2 separate regions of the Homo sapiens genome follow, and region 2 is linked to region 1. Evidence: fine-mapped expression QTL. Tissue or cell type: whole blood. Region 1 holds a variant in brackets; the other region holds the start of a gene. Each region is shown on its reference strand, or each on the opposite one.

Region 1 (2,913 bases):
AATGGAGTAAAGTAAGAAACAGCAGCAAGTATCTAGATAAAAAAGACCCTAAACCTGCCACTAGGCTCCGTCAAATACCTGGATAATTGCACTCATCCTCTGCCTCCCAAGGCAGACCTGGCTTCTCAAGGGTCTGGTTTTCCTCACATGGAGGCCCCCTCCTCCTCTTCTGACCATGTGACAGCTCCCCTAGATCTTTGATATAATTTATACCTTGCCAGGGACCAACTCTTTCCCACCACTGTGAAGAAGAGGGAAAAAATATATATAAATACGTCGGAAATCTATAACAAGGTCTTCTTGGAGGGCAAGACATGGGGAGAGTTAGAAGCAGCGTCAATTGCTCTTTGGGGGTTTTAGTTCAAGCCGAGGTCTGCTTCCAGCAATCAACCATTAAAACAAGCTGGCCAGAGTAACAGCACAGTTTATTCTGATCATTTAATTTGAAGTGTCAATAAATTAAACTTCAATCAATTAAACTAGGTGTGCAATAACCCAGATGGACACCCCGACACCAACATAATCACAATAAAAATTTTTATTGCTGCCAGGGACCTCACCGGGGGCAGTGCTGGCACTGCTCGCGCCCTAGCTGAGAAATATATCTCCACAGCGCAGGAATGAGGAGATTGCTTCTCCTAACAAAATGGAGGGGGCCAGGCACCAGCAAGGACGCAGCTGGGAGAGGGGCACAGGGGACTGCCAGGAACGAGATGGGAGTGCTTTAGGGGCTTAATGTAATTGATACCTTTGCCCAGAGCAGGGGGAGGGGGGCATTTAGGCCAAGTACCTCTACTGTTAGGGCCAAAGGAATTTAACAAAAGCCCCATTAAGATGATTCAGGAAGCAAAGGCCAAGGAGCAACATCAACCTTTAAAGTCATTGACATATTCTGCATAGTTTCCTCCTCCATACATACTCATATCCTTGTGCACTTTGGATGGCCTGATTTTTTAATGAGGCTTAGAATTTAGGATTTGGTTATGGTTTTAAAATATTAAGGTAAGACAAAGTACAGAATTAGAAGTCTAGTCTGTAAAGCACTGGAGAAGCACTCTGAAAGTGAATCCAGAGAGGATTAGGAAAAATAAAACCTATGAACAAAGATTTAAAGATCTAAACCGATACAGAATTCAGTTTTGTTTGTTTTTTAAGACAGAGTTTCACTTTTTGCCCAGGCTGGAGTGCAATGGCCCTCGGCTCACTGCAACCTCCGCCTCCCAGGTTCAAGCGATTCTCCTGCCTCAGTCTCCCGTGTAGCTGGGGATTACAAGCGCATGCCACCACGCCCAGCTAATTTTTGTATTTTTAGCAGAGACGGGTTTCACCATGTTGGTCAGGCTGGTCTTGAACTCCTGACCTCAGGTGATCCACTCACCTCAGGATTACAGGTGTGAGCCACCGAGCCCGGCCCGAGTAATTCAGCTTTAAAGAAAAAAAGTAAAGCAGGAAGGAGGAAGGGGAAATCCTTATCTTTAAGATTCCA[C/T]AGGTTATTAATGGAGAATGGTGATCTGCAGAGATCCTCTTCATTCACAACTCAAAAAGCGAGAACCAGCAGATACAGCAAGAGAGAAGAAGCCAAGTCCAAAGATGCAGGCTGAGATCACTATTATTAAGCATTGGGAACTAAAAGAGATGAAAGGGTCTCTTTCCTTAGAGCCTAAGGAGACCTGAGAGAGATTAGACAAATCTGCTTGAAAGCTAGAGCTGGATTACTTAATTCAAGAAAGAAATGTGACCATGTGACCCACTGTAAAGTACCTAAAAGAAGGGAACTTACTGTTATTTAGAAATTCCACAATCAATGCAAACTTTGATCAACAGTTCTTCTTGACCCCCTGTAGCTTACCTGTCCCTTTTTCTCGACATCCTGCAGCTATGTATGTACCTTGTAGAGTTAAGGACAGAAGAATATGCTTTGATCAGATTGTCCCTAACCGCATTACATAGGTTTCCCATAACAAAGAACCAGTGTGGTTTTAAAAGCAAAGTCCAGGGTTACCTGATCAAGTTAGCAGGGATCTGTGAATGCAGCCTATTAGGCATAGATTAAAGCAAAAGAATAAGGAAGAAGCAGGCTGAAACAGACTTCACTGAAGAAGCAGAGACAGAGAACTAAGGGAAGAGAAATGTGACAGAGAGACTTTCTTTTTCTTTAACTTTTCTGAGACAGAGCCTTGCTCTGTCACCCAGGCTGGAGTGCAGTGGCGCATCTCGGCTCACCGCGACCTCTGCCTCCCAGGTTCAAGTGATTCTCTTGCCTCAGCTTCCTGAGTAGCTGGGATTACAGGCGTGGCCACGCCCAGCTAAGTTTTGTATTTTTAGCAGAGACCGGGTTTCACCATGTTGGTCAGGCTGGTCTCCAACTCCTGACCTCGTGATCCGCCCACCTCGGCCTCCCAAAGTGCTGGATTTACAGGCGTGAGCCACCGTGCCCGGCCTTTTTTTTTTTTTTGAGATGGAGTCTAACACTGTCGCCTGGGCTGGAGTGCAGTGGCGCGATCTCGGCTCACTGCAACCTCTGCCTCCCTGGCTCAAGTGATTCTCCTGCCTCAGCCTCCTGAGTAGTTGGGACTATAGGCTCGTGCCACCACGCCCAGCTATTTTTTTTTGTATTTTTAGTAGAGACATGGTTTCACCATGTTGGCCAGGCTGGTTTCGAACTCCTGACCTCAAGTGATCCGCCCACCTCAGCCTCCCAAAGTGCTAGGATTACAGGCATGAGCCACTGCACTGCGCCCGACAGAGATACTTTCACATATAACTCCCCCAGCTTACCCACTACACACAGGCCCATTGTTAAAAGGGCTCCCCAATTATTATCTTCCTCATTCCTTTACCTTTAAGCAGGCTCCCTTCTAAACATATATAGGTAAGTCTAAAAACTTCCAAAAAAACCAATTCCCTAGAATC
Region 2 (2,913 bases), not on the chromosome of region 1:
GAAACCAAGTCCCAGGGAAGGCAGGTAATTTCTCCTAGGTACACCTGTAGTCATTTATGATGGAAACCAATGATTAACTCCAAATTCCTTCTTTCTTTCTTTCTTTCTTTTTTTTTTTTTTTTTTGAGATGGAGTCTTGCTCTGTCACCCAGCCTGGAGTGCAGTGGCACGATCTCAGCTCACTGCAGCCTCCGCCTCCCAGGTTCCAGCGATTCTCGTGCCTCAGCCTCACGGGTAGCTGGGATTACAGGCACGCACCACCACGCCTGGCTAATATTTGTATTTTTAGTAGAGATGGGGTTTCACCATGTTGGCCAGGCTGGTCTCAAACTCCTGACCTCAGGTGATCCACCCGCCTCAGCCTCCCAAAGTGCTGGGATTACAGGTGTGAGCCACTGCACCCAGCCCAAATCCCTTTTATTTTGTTTTTATTTATATATATTTTTTGAGATGGAGTTTTGCTCTTGTCACCCAGGCTGGAGTAAAGTGGCACAATCTCAGCTCACTGCAACCTCCAACTCCCGGGTTCAAGCGATTCTCCTGCCTCAGCCTCCTGAGTAGCTGGGATTATAGGTGCCTGCCACTATGCCTGGCTAATTTTTTTGTATTTTTAGTAAAGACGGGGTTTTATCATGCTGGCCATGCTGGCCTCAAACTCCTGACCTCAGGCAATCCACCCGCCTCGGTCTCCCAAAGTGCTGGGATTACAGGCGTGAGCCACCGCACATGGCAAATCCCTTTTATTAATAAAACACTAAACTCTCCTGGAGCAAGAATGTGAGAATTTTATTATTTGAGCAACCTGGATTTTTACCCCAGGAGCAATGAAACAATCCATGAGACCTGGAAAAAGCTGAAGCTCTCTTTTTTTTTTTTTTTTTAACTTGTATACAGTACAGTTTCAAACAAAATTGGGGCAACTTTGTACTTCGTACCTTATTAAAACTGGGGCGAACACAGCGTGTTTGGTTTGATCTTGTCTTCATAGGATCTTCTGGCTGATTCCTTCTCTGGATGAGTCCTGAGAATTTCTAGAATCTCGGGAGAGTAAAGGAGGGTCTGGAGCCTTCTCTATGTACAAGGAAATCCCAGTTTTGTTAAAAACTTGCCAAAGGCTTGGTGATATAACTCCAAAGACAAATCCACAGATTCCTTTCAGGTACTTCTTTGGGATTCTGTGAAGAATTGTGGCTGTACACTAGGATGTTTAATAGGAAGGAAGCTCCTTCCTTTATGACATCACCAGACAGAGAGGTAGCTAAGGGGATTATTTGAGACACTCTTAGAACAACAGCCACTTTTGTGGGAGCCCAAGAAACAGCAGCTTTAAAACAGGGTAAATATTCAGGCATCATTAGGATCCTGAATACAAGCCAGCCAGTAAAATACGGGATCTACTCAGAAGGGCACAATCTATCAGATGGTCAAGACAAATAAACCTGGGGCCAAGGTAGCGGTTTCAGCACAGAGAGGGTCTGAGGTTACTACTAACACATCCCCTCAGCAGGGACATGGGTACGTTCTTGCCTCAAGCCATCGAAGTGCTGCAGTCTCCCTGAACCCTTCCCACCGAAGATCAGAAGCTGCACATCCCACCACTCCCCATTCAGCATCAGACTACCCTCGATCTGTCTCCCTCCAGTCAGGACCTGGACACTATGCAGTACCCACTCCTCGGGGACCCGAGACTGGACCAAGAACAGAATCATCCCGCCATTCCTCTCCCCATCTAAAGAGCCAGAAGACTCAGACACTGGCTTCCCATGCTTCAAGCAGACAATGGAAAGTTAGTCCACCCAGAGAGGAAGCAGCACGAAGAGGCAGTGAGAGCAAGTCAGGGCGCGAGGTCGGCCATCATGCTTCATCAATCCCAGATGCCAAATCTACTCATCAGTTGAGTTTTCAAGACCAGAAGAATAACTTACAATCACAAATCTTAGAAGATGACCCACCATCCAAGGTCCAGAACCCCCAAGGAGTCAGAGTTCCCCGTAGGATTTTGTCTTACCCAAAGGATGAAGCAGTACAAACTGAGCCCATCCAAAGAATTACGACTACTAGTGAGATCAGATCTCCAAGGAGTCCCTCTCTCCTAGAGCACGGAAGCAGCTGTGTCTCTGCAGACTATCAGACAGCCCAGAGAAGGGTCCCTGTAGAAGAATCAGAAACAGGTCCTTACGGTCCAATTCCTTCAAAACCCAAGGCCTTGTATAGGAATATGAACTTGGACTCATTGCTCAAACTCTCTGTCCTTAAAGATTCTGATGGTGTACACCGAGTTTCTGCACGGGTAGACCCTGAGTCTCTTCATAAGTATTCTGCCTATCCTGAAACCAAGCCCTCCGCAAAGGTCTTAGTATCATCACAGGTGGAGTCCAACGTGAGGACCCCAATCCGAGGAAACAGCGAGGTTGGCCGCAGGGTCACCATCTCCCCAGGGGTACAGTCAGTAGAGCCAACTCACCATGTGACAGTTCCATCAGTGTCTGAGGGCTCCCACAAGTCATCCATGTTTGTTACTCCAGAGCCCATCTATAAACAGCAAACCCAAAAACCCCCAGAAATTACTTACATGTCCCAAGGACCTACACCCAGGTATCCAGAACTCTCGCAAAAGCCCTCCATCCATGCAGAACTGGAACTGACCCCTAGGCCCTTGCCTCCTCGGTCCTTACCTAGGTACGGACCTGACTCCTCATGGTGGCCCTTGCTGAATCCTGAAGTTGAAACACCCCAAAGCCAGCTGACAACACCGGATTTTGAGCCTAAGTGCTCTCCTTCCCTAGATCTTTTATTGTCCGGTTTTAAAATAGACTCTAGCCCTTTCTGTGAGGATCTGAAGTTCCAGAGAGAGAAGGCAAGCCTATCACCACCATCACCACCAAAGGAGTTTCCAAGTTGGGCACCACTGAG

What was found. PIP is the estimated chance that this variant, and not a neighbour inherited with it, causes the effect.
Region 2: SEPTIN4 starts here. The variant in region 1 is the best candidate, but not a certain one, in a credible set for the expression of SEPTIN4 in whole blood (TOPMed, PIP 0.60).

The regions. Positions count from the first base shown.
Region 1 is chr12:54,327,818-54,330,730 of GRCh38, reverse strand. All of the region lies in intron 1 of COPZ1 (coat protein complex I subunit zeta 1), which reads right to left. Among named protein-coding and RNA genes, the nearest start is that of COPZ1, 4.1 kb to the right of the region's middle. RefSeq lists enhancers at 160-849, 850-1,540. The variant C/T (reference allele first, on the strand shown) is at 1,487.
Region 2 is chr17:58,542,694-58,545,606 of GRCh38, reverse strand. It overlaps SEPTIN4 (septin 4), which reads left to right and starts at 1,279. Exons shown (of 14, transcript NM_001368771.2): 1 at 1,279-2,913. The coding sequence starts at 1,421. It overlaps SEPTIN4-AS1 (SEPTIN4 antisense RNA 1), which reads right to left. Exons shown (of 5, transcript NR_110810.1): 3 at 2,009-2,150; 4 at 936-1,071.